Homo sapiens: one gene and its partners. The protein of the gene in region 1 interacts with the protein of each later gene in a pairwise test. Each region holds a gene or a part of one and is shown in the gene's direction. Other genes may lie near its edges.

The links.
Region 2: the proteins of TFCP2 (region 1) and SDCBP interact in binary tests that used the Homo sapiens proteins (3 or more experiments, as listed by UniProt).
Region 3: the proteins of TFCP2 (region 1) and CA1 interact in binary tests that used the Homo sapiens proteins (3 or more experiments, as listed by UniProt).
Region 4: the proteins of TFCP2 (region 1) and PHF1 interact in binary tests that used the Homo sapiens proteins (3 or more experiments, as listed by UniProt).

The regions. Positions count from the first base shown.
Region 1 is NC_000012.12:51,168,702-51,178,867, reverse strand, and holds the start of TFCP2 (alpha-globin transcription factor CP2), read left to right. Parts: upstream 1-5,732; 5' UTR 5,733-6,445; coding exon 6,446-6,567; intron 6,568-10,166.
Region 2 is NC_000008.11:58,576,098-58,584,794, forward strand, and holds the end of SDCBP (syntenin-1), read left to right. Parts: intron 1-1,935; coding exon 1,936-2,111; intron 2,112-3,525; coding exon 3,526-3,697; intron 3,698-4,419; coding exon 4,420-4,511; intron 4,512-5,588; coding exon 5,589-5,643; 3' UTR 5,644-6,761; downstream 6,762-8,697. Other genes in the region: NSMAF (protein FAN), read right to left, coding at 8,009-8,103. UniProt on the Homo sapiens protein: Multifunctional adapter protein involved in diverse array of functions including trafficking of transmembrane proteins, neuro and immunomodulation, exosome biogenesis, and tumorigenesis.
Region 3 is NC_000008.11:85,325,948-85,334,552, reverse strand, and holds the end of CA1 (carbonic anhydrase 1), read left to right. Parts: intron 1-932; coding exon 933-1,028; intron 1,029-2,000; coding exon 2,001-2,063; intron 2,064-4,708; coding exon 4,709-4,864; intron 4,865-5,876; coding exon 5,877-5,993; 3' UTR 5,994-6,945; downstream 6,946-8,605. UniProt on the Homo sapiens protein: Catalyzes the reversible hydration of carbon dioxide. Can hydrate cyanamide to urea.
Region 4 is NC_000006.12:33,414,014-33,418,187, forward strand, and holds the end of PHF1 (PHD finger protein 1), read left to right. Parts: intron 1-27; coding exon 28-96; intron 97-229; coding exon 230-353; intron 354-463; coding exon 464-531; intron 532-711; coding exon 712-816; intron 817-941; coding exon 942-1,131; intron 1,132-1,201; coding exon of another isoform or gene 1,202-1,221; coding exon 1,222-1,316; intron 1,317-1,576; coding exon 1,577-1,657; intron 1,658-1,796; coding exon 1,797-2,085; 3' UTR 2,086-2,426; downstream 2,427-4,174. Other genes in the region: protein CutA isoform 3 precursor, read right to left, coding at 2,637-2,763, 2,907-2,956, 3,084-3,129, 3,238-3,297, 3,468-3,682, 3,946-3,987. UniProt on the Homo sapiens protein: Polycomb group (PcG) that specifically binds histone H3 trimethylated at 'Lys-36' (H3K36me3) and recruits the PRC2 complex. Involved in DNA damage response and is recruited at double-strand breaks (DSBs).

The DNA.
Region 1 (10,166 bases):
GTTATCCAGGCAGAAGTGCAATGGTGTGATCTCAGCTCATTGCAACCTCTGCGTCCTGGGTTTAAGCTATTCTCCTGCCTCAGCCTCCTGAGTAGCTGGGATTACAGCCGCATTCCACCACACCCGGCTAATTTTGTATTTTTAATAGAGATGGGGTTTCTCCATGTTGGTCAGGCTGGTCTCAAACTCCCGATCTCAGGTGATCTGCCCTCCTTGGCCTCCCAAAGTGCTGGGATTACAGGTGTGAGCCACCACGCCTAGCCTGAAGCTATTTTCTTTTCTTTTCTTTTCTTTTTTTTGAGACGGAGTCTCACTCTGTCTTCCAGGCTGGAGTGCAGTGGCCTGATCTTGGCTCACTGTGACCTCTGCCTGCTGGGTTCAAGAGATTCTCCTGCCTCAGCCTCCCAAGTAGCTGGGATTATAGGCACGCACCACCACTCCCAGCTAAGTTTTGTATTTTTAGTAGAGACTGGGTTTCTCCATGTTGGTCAGGCTGGTGTGAAACTCCTGACCTCATGTGATCCGCCCACCTCAGCCTCCCAAAGTGCTGGGATTACAGGTGTGAGCCACGGTGCCTGGCCACGCTGAAGCTATTTTCTAGTTCCTTCCCTCACCTATTCCCCTGCCTCTCCTTAGATGTGGCCATCACTATAATTGTATTTATTTCATTTCTTTTGAAAGGACTTATGTAAAGTTGACCCTTAAACAATGTGAGGGTGATCCCCACACAGTTGAAGGTTCAAGTGTAACTTCTGACTCACCTAAAACTTTATTACTAACAGCCTACTGTTGATCCGAAAGCTTACTGATAACATAGTCAATGGACATATATTTTATGTTTTATGTATTATATATTGTATTCTTACAATAAAGTAGGCTAGAGAAAAGAAAATATTTTAAAAATCACAAGGAAGAGGAAATATACTTACTATTCATTAAATGGAAATGGATCATCAAAAAGGTCTTTCCTCCTCATCTTCACATTGAGTAGGCTGAAGAGGAGGAGGAAGAGGAGGGGTTGGTCTTAATCTCTCAGGAGTGTCAGAGGTGAAAGACAATCCATGAATATTAGAAGATATCAACAAACAACAAAAATGAAAAATTAAAAAAAAAAAGAAAACCCACAAATAAGTAGACCTGTGCAGTTCAAACCTGTGCTGTTGAAAGGTCAACTGCATACTGTCCTAAATGATAATTGCTTAATTTTACTGGCTTTTGAGCTTTATAAGGTGATATTACACAGTATGAGGACTTCTGAATTTCCCCCTCAATTCTAAGATTGATTTATTCATGCAGTTCAGTATAGCTTTATTCATTTTCACTGCTCAATAATATTATATTCCAGTCTAATTTATCCATTCTTTTGCTGGTGGAGAATTTTTTTATTCCATTTTGTTACCAAAAAGAGTGCTGCCATCAACATTCTCATACAAGTCTCCTGGTATGTATGTAGAAGAGTTTCTCTAGGGTATATATGTAGAAAGGAGTTGCTGAATCACAAAATAATTTTCAGGATAATTTTTAAAGAGTTCTGCTTGATCCTGACCACTCTGTCCTGAGTCTCAGCTTCCTCATATTGAAAAACAAAACAAAAACTTCTATGAAGATTAAATGATATGATGTATTTGATTTATTTATTTTTAATAGAGACAGTGTCTTGCTCTGTTGTCCAGGCTGGGTGTAAAGGCCCAATCATGGCTCACTGTAGCCTCGAACTCCTGGGCTCAAACCATCCTCCCACCTCAGCCTCCTGAGTAGCTGGGACTACAGGTGCACACCACCATGCCTAATTTTTAAATTTCTTGTAGAGAAGGGGGTCTCACTATATTGCCTAGGCTGATCTTTAACTCCTGGGCTCAAGTGATCCTCCTGCCTCAGCCTCCCAAAATGCTGAGATTACAGGTATGAACCATGGTGCCAGGCCAAGACAATGTATTTTAAAGTGCTATTAAGGCTGGACACGGTGGCTGACACAGTGGCTCATACCTGTAATTCCAGCACTTTGAGAGGCAGAGGCAGGCAGATCTCATGAGGTCAGGAGTTCAAGACCAGCCTGGCCAACATGGAAACCCCGTCTCAACTAAAAATATAAAAATTAGCCAGGCATGGTGGCGTGTGCCTGTAGTCCCAGCTACTCGGGAGGCTGAGGCAGGAAAATTGCTTGAACCCAGAAGGCGGAGGTTGCAGTGAGCCGAGATCGCGTCACTACACTGCAGCCTGGGCGACAGAGGGAGACTCCGTCTCATAAATGAATAAATAAATAAATAAATAAATAAATAAATGCTATTAAAACCATAACAGTCTCGGTACCGTGGCTCATGCCACGGTAATCCCAGTACTTTGGGGGGCTGAGGTGGGAGGATCGCTTGAGCCCAGGAGTTTGACACTCACTTGGGCAACATAGTAAGATTCCATTTCTACTAAAAATAAAAAATTAGCTGAGTGTCGTGGTGTATGCCTTTAGTCCCAGCTACTCGGAAGGCTTAGGTAGGAGAATTGCTTGAGCCTGGGAGGTGCAAGATGCAATGAGCTGTGATCATGCCACTGCATTCCAGCCTGGGCAACAGAGTGAGACCCTGTCTCAAAAACACCAAAACCAAAACTTAAAAAAAGAAAACATGGCCGGGCACTGTGGCTCATGCCTGTAATCCCAGTACTTTGGGAGACCGAGGCGCGCAGATCAAGAGATCAAGACCATCCTGGCCAACATGGTGAAACCCTGTCTCTACTAAAAATACAAAAATTAGCTGGGCGTGATGGCATGTGCCTGTAGTCCCAGCTACTTGGGAGGCCGAGGCATAAGAATCGCTTGAACCCAGGAGGCAGAGGTTGCAGATCGCACCACTGACTACAGCCTGGCAACACAGCGCGACTCAGTCTCAAAGGGCATAGTGGTGTGCACCTGTAGTCCCAGCTACTTGGGAGGCAGAGGCAAGAGGATTGCTTGAGCCCAGGAGTTTAAGGTTACAGTGAGCTATGATCAGGCCACTGCACTCCAGTCTGGGTGACAGAGGGAGACCCTGTCTCTAAAAGAAACAAAAAAATCCCAAGCCCATAACATACTATACAATGTAAATTAATGTTATTAAAATAGGATAACAAAATCAACCCAATCTTAACAGAGAAGCAGAAGTGTACTACCAGTGGGAGACTGGAGATAACATTTATTGAATCATTACTATTTTTGCGGCATTTTGGTACCTTATTTAATACTCACAACAGGCTGGGCGCGGTGGCTCACGCTTGTAATCCCAGCATTTTGGGAGGCCGAGGCGGGCGGATCACGAGGTCAGGAGATGGAGACCACGGTGAAACCCCATCTCTACTAAAAATATTAAAAAAATTAGCTGGGCATGGTGGCGGGCGCCTGTAATCCCAGCTACTCGGAGAGGCTGAGGCAGGAGAATGGTGTGAACCCGGGAGGCGGAGCTTGCAGTGAGCTGAGATCGCGCCACTGCACTCCAGCACTCCAGCCTGGGTGACAGAGCGAGACTCCGTCTCAAAAAAAAAATACTCACAACAATTTTAGGGGGAGGTATTATTTTCACTAATTTATGCATTAAAATACTGAGGCTCAGAGATGTAAAGTTACTTGCCTGAGATTACACAGCTAGAGATGGAGCTGATGGTCAAACAAGGCATGGCTCTATCTAAGAGAGGTTTAAAAATACCCTAAGTACAATGCTGGTTTACAAAGGATTTTGACCACCGGGCACGGTGGCTCACGCCTGTAATCCCAGCACTTTGGGAGGCTGCGCCAGGTGGATCATTTGAGGTCAGTTCAGAACCAGCCTGGCCAACATGGTGAAACCCCGTCGCTACTAAAAATACAAAAATTAGCCGGGTGTGGTGGTACACACCTGTAATCCCAGCTACTCGGGAGGCTGAGGCAGGAGAATTGCTTGAACCTGGGAGATGGAGGTTGCAGTGAGCTGAGATTGCGCCACTGCACTCCAGCCTGTTCGAGAGACCAAGACTCTATCTCAAAAACAAAAACAAAACCCAAAAACTTTGAGCCCTCAGATCTCCATGTGACATCTCTCTTTTTGTCTATGAGCCCAGGACCCATTCCTTTATCCACAGTCACACATTTTGAGATAGAACTGGCTCATGGGAAGAAAAGATGGCTTAAAGAGATACTGAATGTCTCCAGAATGAGCTAAGACTTTGATCCTAGGGCTTACCAAGGTAAGACGGCAGGTTTAAGCCTGGAGCCTTCAGAGAGATGCCTGTGGCTGAAACACCCCATACCAGCACAACATGTTGCCATCTTCATGTCAACTTCTCTCTTTTTCTTGGTTCTCTTATTCCTTTTTCATTCCTTTTTAAATTCAATAAACATGTTTAAAAGTCCTGTTGAAAGCAGGAACTATAGTAGGAGATATTTAGAACGCAAGCCTGAAAAAGACCTATTCCTTATTCTTTAGATCAATCTAGTGAGAGAGGCAGATATATACAAAAGTATAAGTCAAGGCAGATTTTAAAAAATTCAGCAACGGAATACAACAATGAACCAAGACTTTCACATAAAGGCAATGTCTTGTAACGAAAAATGCCAGGCTTTGGAATCAGCTCTGAAGCTGGCATGTCAATTTAGCTCCGGCCAATTTAAGGGCTTAGCCTTGGTTTCTTACTGATAAAATAAGAGTCATTAAATTTAGCTTTATAATTCTAATTCCAAGATCGCTTTGAGGACTACTCATAGTGTAATAAAGTTCCTAGCAGTAGTTGATACTTAATAAACAATGGCCATTATTACTCAATCCTCAAAGGAGGAAGGTGGAGCAGATAAAGTTACTCCCACTCCCGTTTACAAACGAGGAAGCTAAATCTGTGACATTAAGCAATTGTTCTGAAGACACCAAAGTAGCAAATGAAGACGCCAGCCTAAACTCTGATTTTCAGATCTTTTAAATTCCAACACCCCATACCAGCACAACAACCTTTTAAAAACCACTGTTTTTTTTTTTTTTTTTTTTTTTTTTTTTTTTTTTTTTGAGACGGAGTTTCACTTTTGTTGCCCAGGCTGGAGTGCAATGGCGCGATCTCGGCTCACTGCAACCTCCGCCTCCTGGGTTCAAGAGATTCTCCTGCCTCAGCCTCCCGAGTAGCTGGGATTACAGGCCCGCGCCACCACACCTAGCTAATTTTTGTATTTTTAGTAGAGACGGGGTTTCTCCATGTTGGTCAGGCTGGTCTTGAACTCCCGACCTCAGGTGATCCGCCCGCCTCGGCCTCCCAAAGTGCTGGGATTACAGGCGTGAGCCACCGCGCCCGGCCTAAAAACCACATTTTTACTGATCTCATGCTTTTCTGTTCAAATGCATTAGAGAGGATGCCGAAGATAAAATGAATATACAGGGAAGTGGGACTTATGCAGGGTCTTGACCTCCGGAGAGGTGAGTTTAAGGAGACAGGAGTATGGGCAGGAGCAAGCGCACACACGTAAGGAGCGTTTGGGAAGCCGTCAAGAGTCCGCCAGGGGTGGAGTGGGTTCATAAGGCTAGAAGAAGGGCTCCTTCCATGGCTCAGGGTGACGACTTGATGGGTAGCGAATACCAGAACTCTGGTAACTACACGGATACACGTTTAAACCCGGACACTTGCACGCCGGGTCCTCCCCGTGATCGCCCAGCCCATCTCGGGGGCAGAGCCGTGGCGCAGCCCGCCTATCATCGCTGCCGAGACTGACGCGGTCTCTTCTTTATAGGCGAACGACAGCGTGACGTCATGTTCGCCGGGCAGGCGAGGAAAGAGGACGCCATGATTGGTTGGCGCTGGGGCGGCGGACGGTGGAAGGGCCTGGCGAGTCTAGGTTTTACGCCTGTGCTGGACTTTCTCCTTCCATGTTTCCAGGCCGTGGGGGGCTACAGAGGGCGAGAAGTCGGCTCAGCGGAAACCTGGATTTGGTTCTAAGCCGTGGGGTTGAGAAGGGGTGACCGGAAGTGATCGTGGGACTGACCGGAAGCGAGGCCTGGAGGGGAAAGAGAGAGCGAGACCTGGGAGGGAGGGGGCCTCCAGCAGAAAGGGGCGGGGGAAAAGGTGCAAAAGCAGCGTGGGAGCGCCGGGCTGGCTTCCTGCGGCTGCTGCTGGTCTGACTGGGAAGCAGCAAGCCACCACTACGAACTCTCAAGAGGAGTGGGAGTGCGGGAGTCCAGAGCTGCCTCTGGGAAGTCTGCAGTAGTTGAGCAAAGGGGTCCTCACGTTCCTGAGAGCTGGGCAGGGGGGATTTTGGAACCTGGGGCAGCCAAGAACGAGCAGCCAAGGGTACGGGAGATTAGTTGTGCACAGAGCAGTGCTGGTCGGGCTTGGGGGTGGCTGGTGGGCACTGCGTGGGAAACCTTGGTTTGTAGTTTTCTTGGTTTGCGTTACTCCTGTTGGGTAGAATTACCCTCCGCGCCTTTGTACAAGACACGGTGTCTCCTGGGGCAAGGAAGGAGCCAGGATGGCCTGGGCTCTGAAGCTGCCTCTGGCCGACGAAGTGATTGAATCCGGGTTGGTGCAGGACTTTGATGCTAGCCTGTCCGGGATCGGCCAGGAACTGGGTGCTGGTGCCTATAGCATGAGGTGAGTGAGATTTTCCCAGACCCTACACCTTCTGAATAACAAAGGCGGATAGACACTAAGAAAAGGGGTTGAGTGGGAAGGAGGTGTATAGAGTTTTAAAAAGCTGTTTACGATTGGGGAAAAGGGACTTGTTCTTTTGTCGCTTTGAGTAGTTAGTGTTGTGGAAGAAATGGAAAAAGCGATTGTAGGCGATATGAAGCCTGTGCAGAATCAGTGGAAGAAGGAAGTGGTCCCTGATTAGTAACCAGATGAATGTTGAGAGGCTTTTGTGCCAATGTGGGAGACTTGGGGACTGATGGTGTATGTGTGGGTAAGTCTGACGTTGTGTGAAGAAGGGTTACATATAGCATAGGAATGGTATCTAGGAAGTTGGGAAATTGGGAGCTGGTGCTTAATGATGAATATTGGTTCGTTTCTTGTTGGAAAGATATGGAAGTCCTTGATGAAGAAGTCCGTACAGCTCTATCTTACCACTAGCTTGCTTTAAGACTTTACTTAATTCTGGGATTTCTGACTTTTAAAACATAAGCTGTGAAATGAAAAAGTGACGAAGAAAACTTAAGATGCTTCTGGATCTTTATGTATCAAGCCAGTTGTTGATAACAGATGAAAAATCTCCTTTCGGCCGGGTGCGGTGGCTCACGCCTGTAATCCCAGCGCTTTGGGAGGCTGAGGCGGGCGGATCACTTGAGCTCAGGAGTTCGAGACCATCGTGGCCAACGTGGTGAAACCCCGTCTCTACTAAAAATACAAAAATTAGCCGGGTGTGGTGGCGCGGGCCTGTAATCCCAGCCACTCGGGAGGCTGAGGCAGGAGAATCGCTTGAACCCGGGAGGCGGAGGTTGCAGTGAGCAGAGATGGTGTCATTGCACTCCAGCCTGGGCAACAAAGTGAGACTCCATTTGAAAAACAAAGCAAAACAAAACAAAAACTCCTTTGAAAGCAACATTATTGCCTATATAACTTGTTGCATGCATTGGCTGCTTCATTCCTCCAGTATAGTTTATTTCATTTATAGATGTGTAAGAATCCTGTATGGAAATGTTGAAACAGCTGCATCTTAGGGGTAGATGGACTATAATTGGGTTTCCTAATGCATTATTAAGACTTAATCTAAATAAGTGAGTCAAGAGACTAGAACTTAACATTTTCATTGGGTTTATGAGTTCATAGGGGAAAGATGCTTTTTAGGGGGAAAGTAGATGCATTTTTCATTCTGATAATGAGATCTTTTAAGAGTTATATAAAGTTCCTTTATTCCTGCCAATTCAAAGTAGACTTACCTCACTGAAGTAAAATTATGAGTTAGAATTTAATACTTCAGGCCGGGCACGGTGGCTCATGCCTGTAATCCCAGCACTTTGGTAGGCTGAGGTGGGCGGATCACGAGGTCAGGAGTTCGAGAACAGCCTGGCCAACATGGTGAAACCCCGTCTCTACTAAAAATTCAAAAAATTAGACGGGTGTGGTGGCGCACGCCTGTAATCCCAGCTACTTGGGAGGCTGAGGCAGGAGAATTGCTTGAACCGGGAGGCGGAGGTTGCAGTGAGCAGAGATCGCATCATTGCACTCCAGCTTAGGCAACAAGAGTAAAACTCCGTCTCAAAAAAAAAAAGGGGGAGAGAATTTAATACTTCAGCATCTTCAGGAATCTTTACTTAGAATAATAAAGACTATTATTCTAAATAATAATCATGCCTGTAATCCCAGCACTTTGGGGGGTGGAGACTGGAGGATCTCTTGAAGCCAAGGAGTTCAAGACCCGCTCTCCACAAATAAATCAACAAATAAATTACCCAGGCCTGGTGGCATGTTCCTGTAGCCCCAGCTACTCAGGAGACTGAGGTGGGAGGATTGCTTGAGCCCAGGAGTTTGAGTCTGCAGTGAGTTGTGATTGCACCACTGTACTCCAGCCTGGTGACAGAGTGAGACCTCATCTCTTAAAATTAAAAAAAAAGAAAGATTTTAAAAATTAAGAAAAATTGGAAAAAAATACTATCGTTATATAAATATTTTAGTGATTTTCAGGGAAACTTGAGTTCCATATGTTCTATCATGCAGTGTTCTTAGTCATGAGAAATTTAACTTTGGTTTTACCTATCCTTGTTTATGTAAGTCTGAGCATAAAAACAGAGGTTAATTTGGTCTGAAAGTAAGTGCCCTGACCCTGAACTTACACATGAGCGTCTGACATAATATTTGACAATTTTTTATGCTGTTACTTGTGTAAAGATATTCACAGCAAAAAGTTTGATTTTGTTTAGGTTACCAGAGGTTAGGCTGGAAATAATTAAATATAACTGTACTCATTATAAAAATAGTTAACATCACCAGCAAACATTTGTTAATCTACTAGGTGCAATACCATATGCTCTTGATACTATGCCATCTTACATTTAATTAAGAGTTCTTTACAAATCATACTCTGTGTTTTTCACAGACATTAGAATGGCTTGCATATTTACACATTTAGTTTTTTCAACATCAAAATCAAATGCACAAGTTTCAAACATCACTTTGAGTTCTTGAGAGTATAGTGTGCCAACATTTTAAGTACTTTCTTCTTTTCTTTTCTTTTTGAGACGGGTCCTGTTCTGTCACTCAGGCTGGGGTGCAGTGGCACCATCTCGGCTCAGTAGAACTTCCATCTCCCGGGCTCAAGTGATCCTCTCACTTCAGCCTTCCGAGTAGCTGAGACTATAGGCATATAACACTACGCCTGGCTTTTTTGTTTTTTTCATCCTTTTTTTCATGTGTTAGGTACTTGTCACTATTCTCTTGACTTTTTTTTTTTCTTTTTGAGATGGAGTCTCGCTCTGTTGCCCAGGCTGGAATTCAGTGGTGTGATCTTAGCTCACTGCAACCTCTGTCTCCCGGGTTCAAGCGATTCTCCTGCCTCAGCCTCCCGAGTAGCTGGCACTACAGGCGCACGCCATCATGCCCGGCTAATTTTTGTAATTTTAGTAGAGATGGGGTTTCACCATATTGGCCAGGCTGGTCTTGAACTCCTGACCTCAGGTGATCCACCCGTCTCAGCCTCCCAAAGTGCTGGGGGATTACAGGCGTGAGCCACTGCACCCAGCTCTCTTGACTTATACACATTTAATCTATTCTATTAATTTGTGTTAATTAGATATTGGTCTTCAAATTTTAGTATTCATAAGAGTCACCTGGACAGCTTATTAAAAATACACTTGGGGACCAGGTGTGGTGGCTCACGCCTGTAATCCAAACACTTTGGGAGACTGAGGTGGGTGGATCCCCTGAGGTCAGGAGTTTGAGACCAGCCTGGCCAACGTGGTGAAACCCTGTCTCTACCAACAATACAAAAATTAGTTGGGCGTGGTGGTGCATGCCTGTAATCCCAGCTACTTGGGAGGCTGAGGCAGGAGACTTGCATGAACCCGGGAGGCGGAAGTTGCAATGAGCTGAGACTGTGCCACTGCACTACAGCCTGGGCAACAGAGCCAGACTGCATCTCAAAAAAAAAATGAAATAAAAATAAAAATACAGTTGGGGATAGGCATGGTGGCTCGTGCCTGTAATCCCAGCACTTTGGGAGGCCAAGGTGGGAGGACTGCTTGAGCTCAAGAGTTTTC
Region 2 (8,697 bases), on another chromosome or scaffold:
TCTCTTACATAATAAGTGATTAATGTTAAAATAATTTGAAATGGAAATGCTTTAATTATAATAGTGCATCTGTAGTTGAGAATATTTTAAATCTACTAACTTAAATGTTTTCAATTGGGGATGTTCTATTTTGCAGAGGCATAGTTGGGACTTCTGACCACATTACTTTGAAAGATGTTTCTTTTCTGAATATTCTAACTGGAATACATTTCACTGGCCTACATATATTATAGTTTGTATAATAGAATTGTGGCAATTAAATAGAGCAGATGTGAAGGTTAAGAAAAAACTTTCCAATGAGAGTCAATGTCAGTGTGCCTTTTTTTTTTTTTTTTTGAGACGGAGTCTCGTTCTGTCGCCAGGCTGCAGTGCAGTGGTGTGATCTTGACTCACTGCAACCTCTGCCTCCCGGATGTGTGTGCATTTTTAAACCAAATGATCAGTATTTAACTGGTGAGATGGTTTTTGCAGATTTGTTATTAACATCCTTCACATTTGAATTTAATATGTCATTTTCTGAGTAAAAAAAGATGGAATATTCTTTCTAATTAGGGCAGCCTTTACTTTATAATTACCTCTCACCTTAACATACTGAAGATATGAAACAGGGTTACTCTCTGAGGAACCATTTATAATTGTGAAGGACATGTTGAGTCTTTACCCCAATTTATAGTTTTAGCCATTACCTTATTGGATTCGGTTTCAGTCATACATCTCTAGCTTAGTGCATCCAGCCTTTCCACATAGAAAATTATAAGTGTGGTGCACTGCTGTAAATGGAGGAGGCTGATCTTGGCAGGAGGCCCCCGCCCTGCCTGCCCACCCAGGGGGCTGAGGCCATCGATGATGGCCTTGCTCACTTGTATGTCACTCAAAATACATCTGCGTGCTTAGTTGGGATGCTCTGACTTTGCTGCCCTTTCTCCAGAATCTTCAGGGAATAGAGTATACTGCTGCTCCTTCCGCCAGGATTGCTCTTGTGTTCTTTCCTCTGTCCTAAAGAGAAAAGATACTTTTCATAGGCCCCTTGGCCCCACTGTAGGTAATAGTTGCAGTGGATTTGTTCACTTGGCCAAAGGGCATTTGTTCATTTATGGGGTGCTACCTAGTTCTTGCTTATCATTCTACAATGTAACAGATGTGTGATAGAAATATGTGACCTAGCTTAGGATTGTAGAAGTAGATGCACTTATATTTTACCAGGCTTATTCTTCTTTTATACTTACCTATTTATATTTTGTTCAACTTCTGATTGAGATTTTACATAAGTAAAAATATCCATGTGAGTGTAGTTATTGGTTAACAGTATTTGAGTTTTCTGTATTTATTTCATTGTGTGTTCTTTATAAGCCTGTGCATGTGGATTTAATATGCCCATCTTTTTAGTCTAACAAATAAACTTTAATCTTACTTGATTATACACAATTTAGCAAATGGGTAAAGGAATGCTTCAGCTCAAAAGGTAGAATTATGACCTTAAACTGTCATTTATTAAGCTGTAAAAGAACTCATCAAACTTTCTAACATGTGACTCGCTTTTCCCCTAAATATGATTATGTACTGATAATTTGGTATTCTATCAGACTCAGACGCTTGCATTTATTAAAGTTGTCCTACTGTATTTTCCTTAGTTTTGTATTCCAAGTTGAAGGGGGGGATTGTGGTTGGTCAGGTGGGTCATGATTTGGTATAGAAATTGCCATTGAAATCTCACTTTTTTGCCTTATTCTTTGGAGTTGCTGTCTTGATAAATTTTTCAGTTTCTTTTGAGGTGATAACTTAATATACTCATATAGTTTTTCCTTTTTTTCTTTTTCTTTCTTTTTTGTCACTGGGGTAGAGTTTTCAACATAAACAGTTGTTTCCTAATTTTCCAGCGTTTAAAACCGTATCATAGTAGTGGTAAATGACAAAAATTATTTTCTTATTATCTAGGGTATATTTGTTCAGCTAGTCCAGGCTAATTCTCCAGCCTCATTGGTTGGTCTGAGATTTGGGGACCAAGTACTTCAGATCAATGGTGAAAACTGTGCAGGATGGAGCTCTGATAAAGCGCACAAGGTGCTCAAACAGGCTTTTGGAGAGAAGATTACCATGACCATTCGTGACAGGTAAGCTGTTACTAAACAGCTCAAATGAAAATTCAATACTAGTTTTCCATTTTTTTGGGCTTTCAGAGTTTGTGAGTATATTATTTTGTTGCAGAAAATGATCAAATGTTATTGATGAGCCTTATAGTCTTGCAGTTGTGTGGTGCAGATTTTTCTTACATTGTTTTTAAAGCATTCTGATACGATACCTTATTTCAGAGTTTATAGGACAAATCTCTCTAGAAAATAGAAAACGTATGTTGGAGAAGTAACTGAGTTGCAGGGCATCTCTGGGCTCACTTTCCAACTTACTGCTTAGATACATCCAGCCTAGGGTGTTCACACACAGTGGTCCCTCATTGTGAGGGTCAGAGCCCATGCAGACTTCCAAGTAGTATGGGAGTTCTGAAAACCGTATCAAGACTTTTGGGTAGTTATGAAGCAGTAGTTTTCAAGAACATGGAATATTCTATTTAGCAGCTCATTCATTTAGAACTTAAACATTTAGCACATGAAATAGGGGCCTCCATTTATTTTCTTGTCTACTCCATACCCAATTAAGGGTAGACGTATATTGCATTGTTACAGTAAGCTTTGAGTTTTTGTTCCTTCTCAGTGAAACTTCTGTTTTATCTTTGTGTTTCCAGTTTCTCATTCAGTTTAGGTATTTCGTAAATGTTTCAGATGAATGTCCTTTTTACTTTCTATCTAAGCAGAGTTTCAAAGAGTAAGTTGTACTAACAGGAAGAAATGCCTCTTCTGAATTTAATAATGTAAACACAAGTTGATCCTAAAACCCTTATGATAACATGATAACAGAGTTTATAGAGAATCAAGCAAATGTGACTGCTATAACAACTCTAGAGGGACAGCTGGATGCCTTTTAATAATAGCTGCATGCCTCCCTTTCCAAAGGGGCTTGAGGAACTTAAGTCTTACTGCTGCTCTAGTTTTTCTTTTCAAAGATAGCAATGTATAAAATTTTCAAAATCAAGATGTGAGAAATATTTTAAAGGTTTTAAATAAAAGAAATAGTCCTAAAAATGATTTGGCTCTAGAAAATACCAAAAGTTAATAAAAAATAAAAATTATCTTTACCACTGTGATTTAGTTAAAAAGCCTATGTCATTCTTAATGCTGTAAAGTCTAATTATAAAAGAAAAACATATTGATAAAACCATATAAAGCAGTTGTCTTTTATACTTAAAGAAGGAAATGTTGATTAGTAAATCAGTCAAACCATAATGAATAAACTTAAAAAAAACTTTTACACAAAGATGTTCCGTGAATGTATAAAATCAGAGCCATAAGTTGCTCTTATTAGAAACAGTGTTTATTATAAAAGTATCCAATATGGCAACATTTATGCTATATGAAATCCATTAAAATGTTTAGCTTAGAATTAAGTTTTTAATTGAACCAATTATGTTTGTAGGCCCTTTGAACGGACGATTACCATGCATAAGGATAGCACTGGACATGTTGGTTTTATCTTTAAAAATGGAAAAATAACATCCATAGTGAAAGATAGCTCTGCAGCCAGAAATGGTCTTCTCACGGAACATAACATCTGTGAAATCAATGGACAGAATGTCATTGGATTGAAGGTAAGGAACAGACTTTGTGCCATGTTCTGCTGCAGTTTTAGAAAATGTCTGTCTTTTGACTGTATTTAGGTGGCGCTGTTTTCATATTGACTTAGGTGGGAGATGGGGAACGTGGGGCCTGAACTCTTGGTCTGGCCAGTCACCGGAATTATTTGGGCTGTCATCTAGAACTACAGTTCCTATAACAAGTGGGCTGGAATAAATGATCTCAGAAGTACCTCACACTAGAATTCTGTGGAAATATGGGCAACAAAGATTTAGAATATGAATAGTGGCCCAGCATTTCTCAATCCAGGAATATAAGGAAATGAATAATAGTTTTGGTTCATATTAATACTTTATTTTTATAGTTTTTCTCCTCCACAAATTCCTAAATAAGTCTGTCTTAAGGTCAAAAAGTTTTAAGCATGACCTCCTCATTTCATAGAATTTGATTTAGAATACACAGTTAATAAGAGGAGATGGTAATATTGTATATGGGGAAAATTATCTAATATTCAGAAAGGAAAAGTTTTTTTTTGGTTAAAATATTCAACTCAGTTTACTTAAGCAATTTGGTTACTAGCTGTAAAATAGTGTACAATTAAACTTGGTAAGAAATACTAGAAAAAATTAGAAATACCAAGACATATATTTTGTATTTCTTTACCAAGACTGGCATAGTTTTGTATTTATTAAATAAAGCCTCTGTGGAATTAATTTTTAATATGTGTTTTTATCAGGACTCTCAAATTGCAGACATACTGTCAACATCTGGGACTGTAGTTACTATTACAATCATGCCTGCTTTTATCTTTGAACATATTATTAAGCGGTAAGTAAACAATTCCTCAACTTAATGCATATGGTCATGTGACTTAATATAAGCACTATACTTTAATTCTCAGCCCTTTGGTTCTTTTACCCAAGGAATGGATACTGGTGTTTTATCTAGAAATTTGAAGTAAGTTATTTAAATCAGAGGGTTGGTAAGGATGAGCTCTTACAACTTCCCAAGTACGGAATAAAATTCACATATACTTTCCTCAGTTTTTATAATGCCTGGTAGAAAAAAGGTATGCAAGGAGAAGTGGGCATGCTTTCAGCTTTCAATTTGCAGTGCAATTGACTGCAGTTGCACTGCCTACCACCCCTCTGCTCAGTATAAATATAGTTGTGGTGGTTCGTAATGGAGAATTCTTGCTGGTGGAATGCTAAGAGTAAGTTTCCCTTCTCTCCAGAATCTCAAGAGGCAGATAGACAAGTGTGGTGTGTTGGTGCTATCTGTGCTCAGGAACTGAGGATTAGAAAGCCAAGTGATCAGAACTGAAAAGAGGCAACAAGGTTCCTTCTATAGAGCTTTTCATATCCTAGCATCTACCATAGCTGTTTTTGTCAAGCCAGCTTGGAATCCTTTCAGAAGCTCTATTATGCATGTGAAAATGAGATTTAAAAGATTCATAAACATAACCATTGTAATGAAATTTTTGTGTTGGCTTCTGGATAGAATGCACCTAGCTACCCTTGGAGGGGGTAAAAAGGAGTTATTGTCATGACTAATTTTTCTAGGGTTCTCTTTTCTTAAATCACTGATGGATCCCTCTACCCCAACTCATCACAGCCTTGTCATTTTCTTTCTGTTTTTTAAAAATCACCATGTTTAATGCACAGGAATTCATTTGTATCCTAACTTCTCTAGCCAAATACAGATAGTCTTTCCCACTGAGTGTCTGTCAACAACTAGATTACCAGAGATGCTTCTGGACTCATTTAAAAGATCTTTCCCTTCTCTCCATTCATATTTGATGCTAACAGGTGCTAAATTGGAATTGGGAATTTTCTTGGATTAATGTAGCATTTTGAAAAACAAAAACCAGAATCTCGGTATATAATAAAAGTACCTCTCTTGTAGGATGGCACCAAGCATTATGAAAAGCCTAATGGACCACACCATTCCTGAGGTTTAAAATTCACGGCACCATGGAAATGTAGCTGAACGTCTCCAGTTTCCTTCTTTGGCAACTTCTGTATTATGCACGTGAAGCCTTCCCGGAGCCAGCGAGCATATGCTGCATGAGGACCTTTCTATCTTACATTATGGCTGGGAATCTTACTCTTTCATCTGATACCTTGTTCAGATTTCAAAATAGTTGTAGCCTTATCCTGGTTTTACAGATGTGAAACTTTCAAGAGATTTACTGACTTTCCTAGAATAGTTTCTCTACTGGAAACCTGATGCTTTTATAAGCCATTGTGATTAGGATGACTGTTACAGGCTTAGCTTTGTGTGAAAACCAGTCACCTTTCTCCTAGGTAATGAGTAGTGCTGTTCATATTACTTTAGTTCTATAGCATACTTGCATCTTTAACATGCTATCATAGTACATTTAGAATGATTGCCTTTGATTTTTTTTTTAAATTCTGTGTGTGTGTGTGTAAAATGCCAATTAAGAACACTGGTTTCATTCCATGTAAGCATTAAACAGTGTATGTAGGTTTCAAGAGATTGTGATGATTCTTAAATTTTAACTACCTTCACTTAATATGCTTGAACTGTCGCCTTAACTATGTTAAGCATCTAGACTAAAAGCCAAAATATAATTATTGCTGCCTTTCTAAAAACCCAAAATGTAGTTCTCTATTAACCTGAAATGTACACTAGCCCAGAACAGTTTAATGGTACTTACTGAGCTATAGCATAGCTGCTTAGTTGTTTTTGAGATTTTTTAGTCAACACATAATGGAAACTTCTTTCTTCTAAAAGTTGCCAGTGCCACTTTTAAGAAGTGAATCACTATATGTGATGTAAAAGTTATTACACTAAACAGGATAAACTTTTGACTCCCCTTTTGTTCATTTGTGGATTAAGTGGTATAATACTTAATTTTGGCATTTGACTCTTAAGATTATGTAACCTAGCTACTTTGGGATGGTCTTAGAATATTTTTCTGATAACTTGTTCCTTTTCCTGACTCCTCCTTGCAAACAAAATGATAGTTGACACTTTATCCTGATTTTTTTCTTCTTTTTGGTTTATGTCTATTCTAATTAAATATGTATAAATAAAGTTACATTTTAGTCTGTCTATTACTGCATCATTTGCTTTCACCAAACTTATGCATGATCTAGAAGACAGGCAGGTGAAATTCACTTTCAGCTGTGGGAGACATCATCTCCCAGAACAAGCTGACATTCAGGGGCCCTAAGAACAGCTCTCAGTGCTGAGACTGAGTGTCAGGAAAATTGCTTCCAGCTGGGAACCCCAGATTACCAGGGCCAAAAGAAGAGCTGGTTCACACCTGCCATGCAGCAGGAACTCATTGAGGCTACTGATTGTCCCTAGCAATACCTGAGACCAGGTAATATTTAATAACACTGAAACTGACTTTGGAAATTCTATTAGTGTGGTCTGACTCAAGTTTTTTCTCCTATGTCATACTACCTGCAAGATACAACAATGTTTTTAAAGAGTATAGAAAAAATAATAAGTCACACACTTACCATGGTTCAGAGGTTGAATATAAAAGGAAATCTGCTACTGCTATACAGCTTACCTTGTTTGAAATTTAGAAGAGAAAAAAATATTTGATTATCTACCTGAGTCTGAAGATAATTTCAAAATAATGGAATTACATTCATATCACTAAATATGGTTTTCTAGAAGATGATTCTAGACTTGTGGTCTTAAAAACACTAGTCTTTTAAGTTACTTAAATAAAGTGAAAACAGCTTTCTTTAGAGAAAAATATTTTTAATGTAGAAAAGATGAATAGCTGTAATGAAATACAAACCGTTCCTATACACAGTAAACTTACTAAGAACTGCTAATCCTTCTCCAGGTTCTTAGAATCTGGGTACAGCATTATAGAAAGTAACCACGCTATGAAAACACACACCCAAAACCCGATGGGTGGCAATTGTGATAGATTAGGAAGACAAAACAGATTCAGAAGTAGCAGAGAATACTGCACATTTTCTTGGAAAATTTCTTAATTGTTCAGTGCTTTCTGACAAGTTTCCCCAGCCCAATTTATCTCTTAGCTATTCTCTGCTACTTAGTCCTGTCTTCTGACAATCATCATACGGGGACGATCATCTGCCTTACAGTGTAACATGTTTTTCCTAACACAGCCGCATTTTATCTGCCCTAAGAGAATAGCAACTAATGGCTTTCAATGAAGTCACCATGATTTAGAAAGTTTAAAACCACAAATTTTCCATGTGGTAAAACTTCTAATTACTAACATTGCACATTCACCAGTCCGTTTAAAAGTTTGGTTTAAAAATGCATTAAATAGAGTTCAATTTAATATTCAGGAGAGGAAAAGGCACTTAATACTGCAATTTCCAGAATATAATTTGTCTGTCTTCCCCTCCTGTGATGATACTGCTACACTGTTCATTCATCCATATACATGTCACAGCACCTGAGAGAAAGACATTTTGGTTAGTTAGGAAGTTGACCAGGAGGCACCCAAAGATAAACTTTACTCTGATGCTTACTCTTGCTTTGCTATTCATTTACTAAACAAGTGAAGTAAGTTCTATTTTTTCTTGTCTGCTTCCTATAATAAAACCCTTGAATAAATTAAAAATAATTGCTTGGTACAAAGATCTTGTGAGGAATACTAAACCATTTAAGTGTAAATCTAAAGCTAAAACAACTGGGAATTATGGATATAGAACAATGCAAATAAATACCTTGGCGAAGTAAGTACAATACAGGTATAACATGACAAAAGTTGGGAGACAGATGTGAAGGAAAAGGTGGGGTTATTGGTGTAAGGTTATTGGTTTATTTCCTTTTCCACTGGAAGGGGTCAAATCACATTAAAGTTACTAAGTTGAGAACAAAAGTCACAAAGAATTTCATTTTTTTTGAAATAGTCTCGCTCTTGCTCTTACCCAGGCTGGAGTACAGTGGCATGATGAAGCTCACTGTAGCCTCTGTCTCCTGGGCTCAAGCTAGCCTCCCATCTTAGCCTCTTAAGTAGCTGGGACCACAGGCGTGTGTCACCACA
Region 3 (8,605 bases), on another chromosome or scaffold:
AGTGATATGGATAGAACTGTTTTGATTTGTGGTGGTTACTTTATATTGGATGATCAGGAAAGAATTATTTAAGGAGTGGCATTTGAGTTCAACCCTAATTCAAGACAAAAGTCTGCCATTTGAAGATCATGGGGAAGGAAATTCCAGAGAAAATTAGAAGCTAATGCAAAGGCTCAAAGTTGTGAACATGTGACGAAGTATAACCTGTAAGATGTGAATGTTGATAGGTGGGGAAAGCAAGAAATGAATGATAGTTGTTGTACTTATTGATTGAGCATTTAAAAACCTTATCCTAAGAAGGTAAAATTAAGCAGGTTTGGCAAGAAGGAAATCTAGAGTTCTATTTTGGCCAGATTAAGTCTGAAACATCTATTAGACATCCATGTAGAGATATCAAGAATATATCAAGAATACATATATACATACTTGGATGTACAAATCTAGAGTTTGCAGAGACGTTAAGCTGGAGATATTTATTTGAGAGATGTTTGGAAAGGGCACGAACGTGCCTGAAAGAATCTGTTCTTGGCCAAGACTCCCAGGAACTCCAGGAACCCTTTCTCATAAATTTACTATAAAGTACCTCATGTGAGAGAAAATTACTTCAATTATTTTCCCAAAAACTAGTTAGTCATATTTCCTGATCTTTTCAAAACAAAGAGAGATACATTTAAAGGAGTAATATTAAATAACAATATCGTAGGAAAGGACATTTTGCTTACTGGTTCCAGGTTTTGTAATCTCTACCTGGCACACAGATAACCCTTCCTACGAGTGAGAATGTAACTCTTCTAATCCACTGGATAAAGGTTCACATAAGTTTTATGTATCTAAGCCAAGATACATCATCATATGGTAACAAGTTAACTTATAACTTATCTTTTTTCATCACACTGGTATAAATAATTAATTAACCATAGTATCATTTTTAGCTTCACGTAGCTCACTGGAATTCTGCAAAGTACTCCAGCCTTGCTGAAGCTGCCTCAAAGGCTGATGGTTTGGCAGTTATTGGTGTTTTGATGAAGGTGAGTTACAGATAATTACACAGCTCTGCTTCCACTGTCTTACCAATTAGACCTCAAAATAGAAGGAAATAAGGCAACATATATTTTAGAATTTCTTATTTTAAAGTTTCCATTTAACCGATGACTACAGGTGAACAAATAGTTCCCTAGTATTTTATTGCTTGGTTTTATCTCTGCTTTTCCCTCTTAAAGAGAGAAATGAGTTTCAGGTGGAGGTGAGATAGAAATGTGTTCACAGGGAAAAAGGAATTTCTATTTTCCAGCTCTTCCAAATTCCCTTTCCTCTAAATTTCCTACATCATAGATTCTGAAATTTATTAATTTAATGTCTCATCAGGAAAGAAATATTATTAAATATTAATAAGGAAACCTGAAATCATAGATTCAGAAATTTATCAATTTAATATCTCATTAGGAAAGAAATAGTAAGAGAATTTTTTCTTACAAAGAATATTCAATTGATTTTTTAAATGGGAGATGTTGCTCAAATCCTCTATAGAAGAATCCCTGAAAAGTTCTATGAAAAAGTTATTATTAAATTGGGTATGCCCGGGTAACCAAGTAACTCTTGAAATTATAGCACTTCTACTTAACCTTTACTGAGCACTTACAATATGCCAAATACTGTAGTAATGAAAACTAATATAACAGACCAAAATAAGAGATTTGTTTTTGTGTCAGTTTTGATAAATTACTAGATTTTGCCCTGTATAACTTTGAACATATTGCCAATAATTAAGTTTAAATCAAACTTTTTGTTTGCTACTTTTATCTGTAGGTACATATTATAAACAATTTATAGAGTACAAAGGCCCTCAAAGACATACAGCTTGAAAAATCTCCCCTTCTAAAGCAGAGAGAAAATACCTTACCTCTTGTCAGTTGTTAATTGAAAAAAAATTCAAAATTTAGCTAAGCAGTGTTCGATTGATAATAATCTTTATCTCATACTTTATTTTCTTAAATCTCCAGGTTGGTGAGGCCAACCCAAAGCTGCAGAAAGTACTTGATGCCCTCCAAGCAATTAAAACCAAGGTAAACACACTAAATAAGTAGTTTAAATCAGAGAACAAGAATTTACAGATCTATGGAAATCATTTAATGAAGTATTAAAACTGGGGAGTAGGAAGGCCATAGTAAAAGCTACCAACTGAAAATCAAGGTGCTACTTCAATACTGCCTACCTCTGAGAAAGTCTCTAATGCAGGGAATTGTTTTGGTTTTCTGTTTTTCATAGTTATGGTTTATTTATTTCAGCAGAATATGGCCTGTAGAAAACCAGATTACATAGCCATTTAAATTTGCTTGAAAAACTATATCTAACAAAATTGTGATTTTCCATTTGATAAATAAAGATATCTCTAGTTTTTTAGCAGTAGAAAAATTCAGAAGTAAAGGGCATTCTTTTGAGATATGGTTGATATACAATCTTTGATAACCATAACTCTTGTCAACTCAAAAAAAATGGATTTTTTGATATATACAAACTTAGCTTTATTGTTTTAAAGGTAAGCAGTTAAACCATAAATCAGAGATTTGTCATGTTTTGCAGCATGGAGAACTGTCATATATTTGTGTAAAATGAATCTGATTTATGCTGATTCTAGAAAAGATTAAACTTAAATGATTGTCTTATAAAGTATAAATGACAGAGATAAAAAATAAGCCCTCAACTCAAGAGTTATCAAAAAAATATGAAAAGAAAATATAAGGAAATAATTAGTGAAGATAAAAGCAGAAAAGAATAAAATAAGAAAGAAAAATGATGGCCGGGTGTGGTGGCTCATGCCTGTAATCACTGCACTTTGGGAGGCCGAGGCGGGTAGATTGCTTGAGGTCAGGAGTTCAAGACCAGCCTGGCCAACATAGTGAAATCCCATCTCTACTAAAAATACAAAAAATTAGCTGGGCGTGGTGGCGCACACATGTAGTCCTAGCTAATCAGGAGATTGAGCCAGGAGAATCGCTTGAACCCAGGAGGTGGAGGTTGCAGTGAGCCGAGATTGTGCCACTGCACTCCAGCCTGGGTAAAAGAGTGAGACTCCATCTTAAATAAATAAATAAATAAATAAATTTTGAAAAGAAAAATGATGGCTAAGTAAGGGGTAAAATTTTATCAATAAATTGAAAAGTTGATTCTTTGGAAGAACAACAAAAAAGTCAGACTTTGGGGAAGCTGGATAAAGAGAAAAAAAGCCGTACATATAAAACATTATTAGAAATAAATAGGTTGTGACTAAAGATATAGAAGAAAATTTTAAGAGACAAAATTTTTTATAACATTATGCCAGTAAATTTGAAAATTTAGATAAAATGGATAATTTTCCAAGAAAATGTGAAATAAGGGAATTGACTCAAAAGGAGTTAGAATACCTAAATAGACTGAGAACCTAAAAGTAAATTTAAACAATAGTCAAAATGTATCTATTAAACAAAAAGACTAGGCCCAGACCACTTCATGGAAAAGGGTTACTCAACTTTTAAGAAACAATCATGCCAGTGTTAACTAAAGTGCCCAGATGAAGGAACAGACAGAAAACTTCCCATCAATTTAATGGAATCTGATACCAAAACCAGGTATGAAAACTACAAAACAGACAAACAAAACAAAAAACATAGGATAAACTTTCTTAGGAATATAGCTAAAGGAAATCCTAAAATTTATTATAACAAATCAAATTCAACAGTGTTTTAAAAGAGTAGTTTCTGAACTAGTAGAGTTTATCCCAAAAATACAAGAATGACTCAATATTAGAAAATCTTAAATTAATTCATTATATTAACTAGTTAAAGGTGAAGAAAACCTCATGATCAACTTGTTAAATGCTTAAAATCATTTGATAAAAGTTAATGCCCTTTCTTTAGGATGAAACAAAATGAAAGAAAACTGTCTGAAAACTTATTGAATTTGATAAAGAATTTACCTAGAAACTTGTATCAACATTTAACTTCATAGTGAAACACTTGAAGCATTTACATTTCAGTCAGGGACAAGACAAAAGTGCCACTGTGACCATCACAATTGAAAATTATAATAAGGGTCCTAGTCAGTGCAACAAAATAATGAAAGAGTACATATTATGATAGATATCGAAAGAGCAAAAACAAAACTATCATTATGTGCAGTTGATATCATCACTAACATCCACCTGAAAACTCCAGAAGAATCATCTAAAATACAGAATGCATAAAAGATTAGCATACAAATATCAGTATATTTCCTACACACCAGTAACAATCAGAAAAGACGATAGGAATAAATAGAATAAAACTGAAACAACCAATATGCATGTCAATAAAGATTTTTGCCATTGAAATAGAATCTGGCATCATTCCTAGAGAAAAAAATAAAAGCTTTATACTAGAAATTAAATATGTTTTAAAGATATAGATTGTAAAAAAGATTTTTGAATCTTTGCTTATCTGCAACCAAATGAAGAAGGAAGACGTCTTGGTCAAAAACTTACATATAACACATTTTTCATCTTTTTTTCTTCTGTTGATATTATTGTTTATATCCACAAACACGCCAGTCATGAAATACTAAATAGTAGAAAAATCAATGACTCTTAGCTAAAATCTCTAAATAATGTATAACAAGATAATATAGCATATATATGTCACATATATTCATATAAGTATTTTATATCATGCTGTAATGATGTATTCTTTTCTTCCAGGGCAAACGAGCCCCATTCACAAATTTTGACCCCTCTACTCTCCTTCCTTCATCCCTGGATTTCTGGACCTACCCTGGCTCTCTGACTCATCCTCCTCTTTATGAGAGTGTAACTTGGATCATCTGTAAGGAGAGCATCAGTGTCAGCTCAGAGCAGGTAGAGTTGTGAATGAATGGGAACTGGGAATGCGTAGCAGGAATATTACTTTAATTGATAGTATCAGTGAGAGAGATTATTATTTCAGTCAGCTTTGTGAGAAGTTCATTTTTCCTCCCAACTTAAAAATATTAATTTGGGGACATAGGTTTATTAAACTATCCAAAAATGCATTATAATACTTTATTTTGCCTTTATGCAGAAAAAAAATGACTCCCGCCACTCTTTCCTCCTTAATAAGGAAAAGTCCAACCTTGTTAAATATCTTCTTAAGCATTTCAGAAATAAAGGAAAAACTGTGACTGGACATTTCAATAAGACTTTGGGGAATTGTGGCTCCCAGCTGGCATACCTTGATAGTTGGCAAAATATTTTTGTTCCTTTTGTGGAGCTTAAACTTTTAAATATTCAACAAAATATCTCATTAACTGTTGTTAATAATGGTGATTATAGTAAGTATCATTCATTGCTCTACCATGTTTATTACGTGCCTTACATATGTTTTATTAGCCAATTCTCATAACAAACCTACAGGACAAGCATTGTAGCCTGTTGCTAACTGACATTTATTGAGCACATGCTATGTGTCAAGTATCATTCTAAGGGCTTTGCATGTATTAACCCATTTAATCTTCACAACAACACAGTGAAGTAAGTACTTATGGAAACTAAGGTACCAAGCTAATAAGTCGCTCGCCCAACGTACCCCAGCTGAAATTAAAAAGTTGATACTTTAACCCAGTCATCAATAATTAAATCAATAAAATAAAGCAAATAATTAAATTTGCTTTATTTAATTGATTTAATTAAATAATTAAATCAATAATTAAAGCAAAATGCCTGGTTCAAAGAAATGAATGTAAAGGATTTGGGGCTTTCTCTCTTCCTATTAGTGATATTACTGCAATTTCTAACTCAGTTTTCTAAATATCAGTGCGTTAGTAATCCTGTAAATAAAACGCTTTATGTAACTTTAAAAACTTTTTATTTTTAAAATATTTTATCCTTCTAGCTGGCACAATTCCGCAGCCTTCTATCAAATGTTGAAGGTGATAACGCTGTCCCCATGCAGCACAACAACCGCCCAACCCAACCTCTGAAGGGCAGAACAGTGAGAGCTTCATTTTGATGATTCTGAGAAGAAACTTGTCCTTCCTCAAGAACACAGCCCTGCTTCTGACATAATCCAGTAAAATAATAATTTTTAAGAAATAAATTTATTTCAATATTAGCAAGACAGCATGCCTTCAAATCAATCTGTAAAACTAAGAAACTTAAATTTTAGTTCTTACTGCTTAATTCAAATAATAATTAGTAAGCTAGCAAATAGTAATCTGTAAGCATAAGCTTATGCTTAAATTCAAGTTTAGTTTGAGGAATTCTTTAAAATTACAACTAAGTGATTTGTATGTCTATTTTTTTCAGTTTATTTGAACCAATAAAATAATTTTATCTCTTTCTTTCTGTTGTGCATTCAGTTTCTAAAACCATTAAGTTTCTACTCCATTTACATTCAAAAATCTTAAATACTTTACTTGCAAGAGTATTTTGCTTCAAATACAACAACCTAAGAGCAGCTGGAGATGAAATATTGGGAAATTCATTTGCTTACTCCTGAAGACAAAAATATAGCTGAGATGACCACTGGATTTAATATCGTTATGCTGGCCCAACATTGCTACCATTTGTGTTGTCTGTGATCAAAATGATTATCTTTTATATAGGAAGATGACGCTTCTGGATATTGCTTTCACTTCTTCTCCCCACGTTAGCAAGGACAATGCTTCTCTGCCATTATTACAACTAGTTAGTTTGCATGGAGAATCTTTACTTTAAAATTGGAAGAAAAGTCACAAGTGAATGGTTTATAAAAATGCTAAAGAAGTCATTCTTGCTTAGAATCATATAGAAACATCATGCAATCTTTTAGTCAGATGTGCGCTTCACCTTATGCTATTTTTATCTTTAATTGACACACAATAATTGTACATGTTTATGGAGTATAGTGTGGTGTTTTCTGTTTGTTTGTTTGTTTTTTGAGACAAGGTCTCACTCTGCCAGTCAGGGTGGAGTGCGATGGTGTGATCATAGCTCACTGCAGCCTCAAACCCCTTGGCTCAAGGGATCCTCCCACCTCAGCCTCTTGAGTAACTGGGACTATAGATGCCTGTCACCATGCCAGCCTAATTTTTAAATTTTTTTTTGTAGAGACATGGTCTCTCTATGTTGCCCAGGCTAGCAGTGTGATATTTTGATTCATGTATACAATGTGTAATGATCAAATCAGGGTAATTAGCATATCCATTACCTTAAACATTTATCATTTTTTTGTGCTGAGAATATTCAAAATCCTTTCCTCTAGCTATTTAAAAATATACAATAAATTATTGTTCATTATAGTCACCCTATTATGCTGTAAAACACTAGAACTTATTCCTCCTATTTTGCCGAAGCCATATCTACATCCAGAATTCTACAAATCCTGTGTCCAGTGTTTAATCTTGTGATTTACTTTAGTTATCTCATTTGAAGTAGTAAAGACCAAGCCCAATTGTTCATTTCTGTAAGTTTTAGTAAAATTACTTAAAAAACATTAAGCAGATTCTTCACTGCTCTAATAAGCCTTTCTGCAAAGGCTGTGTTTGTTTTACACCTAAAAACCATACTAAGAGACTTCTTTTGAAATATTTGACTTGGGGCCTAGAATTTAGGTGAATCCTCTTTATTAAAATGTAATTTGTTTTTATTTTATTTTTAATCAAAATTAATTTGTTTTTCTACACAAAGTTGGGAAATTTATAATTTATTAATTGAAAAAATAAATACAAATATAATGGAGTCAAGTAACACATTAGCTCTGCCCCCACGTGTAATCTCTAAATATAAAATATTTTATTTGCAAAGGAATCCAACTGTGTATGATACTCTATATTTGCCAAATATTGAGAAAGCCTGCAACACTTATACCTGGCCTAGGATCCTATTACTTCACATGAGTTGTATTGATAGGATTTTAATTATAAAGTTATCAAAGGCTCTCAAAAGGTGGGAGCCAAAGAAAGAGGGATATGAGCTTAAGTTGAGAAATACATTTGCAAAAGATGTTCATTTGAAAACATTTTCTGAAAAGAAATTAAACAATTTAGAAATAAGTTTCACAGGAAGGATCTGAAAAACACTTGACCTGATGGTCCATATATTTTTTAAGAAGGTTAAAATGGATTCCAGCATTTAGATATAAGTCTGTAAGTCTTATTATGGACAGGGCAAAGATGTGACAAAAAAATACATGATGACCATCAAACATTATCCCTAAGGCAAATGCCAAATGGGTAGCATGTTTCCCCTTACTGCCTCTGCCAGAATTTCATATATTTGGCAGAACTCATGAGATTCATTATGAATTTCTCTGAAGTAGCCAATAAAAACAGCTGTTGAGAGGAGGTATGTAAACTAGGCATTGGATCATCTGAGAGTGTAACTCATATGTGTCACTGACTCACCCTCCTCTTGTATGTCCTCATCCTTTGTCAACTTACATAAAGAATTTAAACATCCTGCAAGGATTCTCTGGCTTTTCCATGATGTTTGGCAGCTGACCTTCTTTATGCCACATCTATTGGCATCTAGAATGATAAGCCAGCTGGTGAGGCCCAGCGTGGGCTCTAGGATAAAGAGTGCTCTTACTGCATGCTGTTTTCTGCCTTTTCACTTGCCCTTCAGAAATACCCTGCTGTACCG
Region 4 (4,174 bases), on another chromosome or scaffold:
TGTTTGCTCCCTCTTGCCCATGTCCAGGTTCTATGAATTTGAATGCTGTGTGTGTCGCGGGGGCCCTGAGAAAGTCCGGAGACTACAGCTTCGCTGGTGAGCTGGATTGGGCATGACCTCAGTGTAACTCCACACCACAGTATTTCACTCTATATGCCCCAACCTCCCACCTCAGGACTCCCCTGGCTCTTAAAATGCCTCTGTGGTCTTGAAAACTTTGTTTTTCCAGGGTGGATGTGGCCCATCTTGTCCTGTATCACCTCAGTGTTTGCTGTAAGAAGAAATACTTTGATTTTGATCGTGAGATCCTCCCCTTCACTTCTGAGAATTGGGACAGTTTGCTCCTGGGGGAGGTAAGGGGTAGTGCAGTTTTGGGGGTTGGGATGGGACAGGGAGATGTAGCGGAAAGGGGAAGAGAAGAAATCACTGCTCCCCTGGCCCCATTTTTCTTCATTTCTCCCAGCTTTCAGACACCCCCAAAGGAGAACGTTCTTCCAGGCTCCTCTCTGCTCTTAACAGCCACAAGGACCGGTGAGTTGGAGGGAAGAGGAGGCAAGGATGAGGCTCGGAAAGAGATGGAGAGTGGAAGCCTGGAAGGGGAGGGGCTTGCAACCCACCTGGAAGACTGTGACTGAAAAGGATTGAGGAATGGCGTAAGGAGGAACCGTTTTTTACAGCACTGACCCTATATCATTTCTCTTCTTGCCCCAGTTTCATTTCAGGGAGAGAGATTAAGAAGAGGAAATGTTTGTTTGGTCTCCATGCTCGGATGCCTCCCCCTGTGGAGCCCCCTACTGGAGATGGAGCACTCACCAGGTCACTGGTCCAGGGGGGATGGGGGAAATTCTCAGGGTGTTAGTCCTGGGGGGTATATGTATAGAGATGGGGAGGTCTTGGGGGTGTCCGGGAGGGGGCTGGGGGGATAAGGAGGCCTCTTACAGCTTCCCTTCAGGGCAGGGCCCTGGGGGAGGGGTCTCACGTCCCCTGGGGAAGCGCCGGAGGCCGGAGCCAGAGCCCCTGAGGAGGAGGCAGAAGGGGAAAGTGGAGGAGCTGGGGCCACCCTCAGCAGTGCGCAATCAGCCCGAGCCCCAGGAGCAGAGGGAGCGGGCTCATCTGCAGAGGGCACTGCAGGTACTGGAGCAGGGGGAACCCGATGGAGCAAATGGTGGGGTGTGGGAAGGAGTCAAGGATTATCTCTCAGTCCTTTGCCCCCTCTTCTAGGCCTCAGTGTCTCCACCATCCCCCAGCCCTAACCAGAGTTACCAGGGCAGCAGCGGCTACAACTTCCGGCCCACAGATGCCCGCTGCCTGCCCAGGTCAGTGCTCCTCTGCCCCTCCCCCACAAAATATGCTCCCAATTATTCACATCTTCTGGACTTTATCACCCAGAATTCTTTTCCCTCTCCCCCTTGGCTACCCACTTCTTGGCCTAGACCGACTTCTAGAACTAGTGTCTGGTAGCCAGTATTCTGGGGAAGGGAGTCCCTTGGGGGTAGTGTTTGAGCTCTGCACTTCCCAGGGGGAGAAGGTCCTGTTCCCCTGCTTCAGGTCCTGACTTTCCCCACTCCAACCCCAGCAGCCCCATCCGGATGTTTGCTTCCTTCCACCCTTCTGCCAGCACCGCAGGGACCTCTGGGGACAGTGGACCCCCAGACAGGTGAGATTCTGTCTTCTATTACCAGTGATGCTCTTCTTCCCCTCTATGTGCTCAAGGCTCTTAGTCTCTAACACTGTTTCTCTGATTCACATGTGCTCTCCATTTCTGCCCATTTCTTACAATTGCCTTCTCTCCCTAGGTCACCCCTGGAACTTCACATTGGTTTCCCCACAGACATCCCTAAAAGTGCCCCCCACTCGATGACTGCCTCATCTTCCTCAGTTTCATCCCCATCCCCAGGTCTTCCTAGACGCTCAGCACCCCCTTCTCCCCTGTGCCGTAGTTTGTCTCCTGGGACTGGGGGAGGAGTCCGAGGTGGGGTTGGTTACCTGTCCCGAGGGGACCCTGTCCGGGTCCTTGCTCGGAGAGTACGGCCTGATGGCTCTGTGCAGTACCTGGTTGAGTGGGGAGGAGGGGGCATCTTCTGAACAGCCTGCCTCTGCCCAGCTCCCCATTCACACACACCGGCACTTTCATACCCTGACCTCTGACCTCACCTACAGCTGGGATGTACCTGGAGAGATAGGGGGTAGTTCTCCCTACTGCCCAGGCTGGAATCCAAGAGTGGGGAGTGGGGAAGAGGCCCTCTTCTCTACCCTCCTTCATGATTCCTGACCCCTCCCATCCTTCCCATTTCCTTTGATGTTATTTTGTTACAGCTTTTTAAATATTTTTTAAAATTATTTAACCCCTGGGGGCAGAGACTGAGGAGGGAGGATGATAAGGGATCCCGGACTCTGTATGATTGAAATAAAGAGAAATAAACAAATCTAGCAGCTCTGAGTCATTCTGAAAGATGTAGAGAATACAGGGACTAGAAGCACTTATATTCTCCCAACAAATTTGCATACATGACAAAAAACAGGCAAAAGGCAGAGAGACCCAAAGACGGGATTTATTGGGGGCCCAGTCATCACCTGGAAGTCAGAAGGCGTTGAAGTATCGCGGGGATCTTCATGATGAGCAGGAACAGGGCTCATCATGGCAGGACTGTGATAGAGTCAGAAACTGACTCTGTGACCTGGCGCACCCACTGCAGGTACGGAAAGTTCCCCTGTTCCACAGGCAATGCAATTACCTCGGCCACTTCGTAAGGGTGCACAGAACTACAAAATAGGTGGGTGGGGGAAGGGGATCACTCAAAGATTTACCCAAAAGAACCCACTCCCTTACACGCAAGCCCTAGACTGCCCAGCAAGTCACACCCACACAGTACACACCCTCACCCCATCCATCTCAAAGTTCTCACCGAACAAAATCTGTCAAAGCTGGGACCAAGGAACTTTGGGTTTTAATCATCTAAGGGACAAAGATAAACATGGTTGAATCAAGGAGTGGGATTGAGTTCAGTTTCTCAGAAGAGGGGTAAGGGCTAAAGGGGTCAGGGATTGGGGATATTTTGTTGGGTGGGGGAAATGTTTCTCACCATCAGCACCTCACTGTCTTCCTCGATCTTCCCTTTCCACTCATAGCTGAAAGGTCAGAGGGGGAGAGTTGTGGGGAGCAAAGAATTTCCCCCAGGAAAGAGGTTCCCAGTCAGCTCCTACAGTTAGGTTAACCCCCCAACTCCTATGACTCACATGGATGTAATCTGAGGGATGAGGTTGACGCAGGCTGCTAGGCGCTTCTCCACCACGGCCCTGGAGTGAAGAGACAGTCCCATTCAGAGTACCCCATAACCCCAGTTTTTGTACTGGCAGCCCAGAGACAGGCTTCCAGAGCTGGAGAAAGGAGAAAGCAGCACTCTTCTGCCCCACCCCCAACTGTCCCTTCATGATCATCCTTTCTCGCTGCACATCGAGGTCCCTACCTGGCGATCTCCTTGGCGACCTTCTCGTTGGGGCAAGTAACAAAGGCTGCAGAGACCGAGCCCGGAACGTAGCCAGAGCCGGAATCCGAGGCCGGCGAGGGCTGGGTCGGAGGGCTTCCAGAGGCCATGGTCAGCAAGACTCGGGGTAGCAACAAAAGGCGGGAGGCCACAGGCAGCAGCGCCGGCATCCAAACAAAAGACAGGAGCAGAGAGGCCTGAGAGCAGGAGGCGAATTCGATCTCTCCTCACAAACAGCCCAGGAAATTACACCCGGGGAAGCCTTCGCTTAGATCCTCAGGCTCTGCCCTCCCTCTGATGCACCCCCGAAGAATGCCCCTGAAGGTGAGAGAGAAACTTGGAAAATAAAGCAAAAGCTCATTTCACTCACACCTCAGGGGGCCAACCTCTGGGATTTAGGGTGCGGGTAGCGGTCGAGGCTTCGAGGACCGGAAGGGGCGGGGCGGGGCCGGTCACTCACCACTCCGCCGAGCAGGACCGCGGGAGCCCGCCCCCCACTCATGCGGCCTACGCTGGTACAGGAGAGTTGATCTCAAAGGCCACACGTCACACGGAGAAACAACCCCAGGAAGAGCGGCCTCTTCTTACCTGGGTGGCAGCCACGTGATTAGAAAACAGCGCGCACCATGTGACAGTAGAAGAAGGACCACCTGCGCCTCCAGAGCCAGCCAATCCCGACCCTATCATGG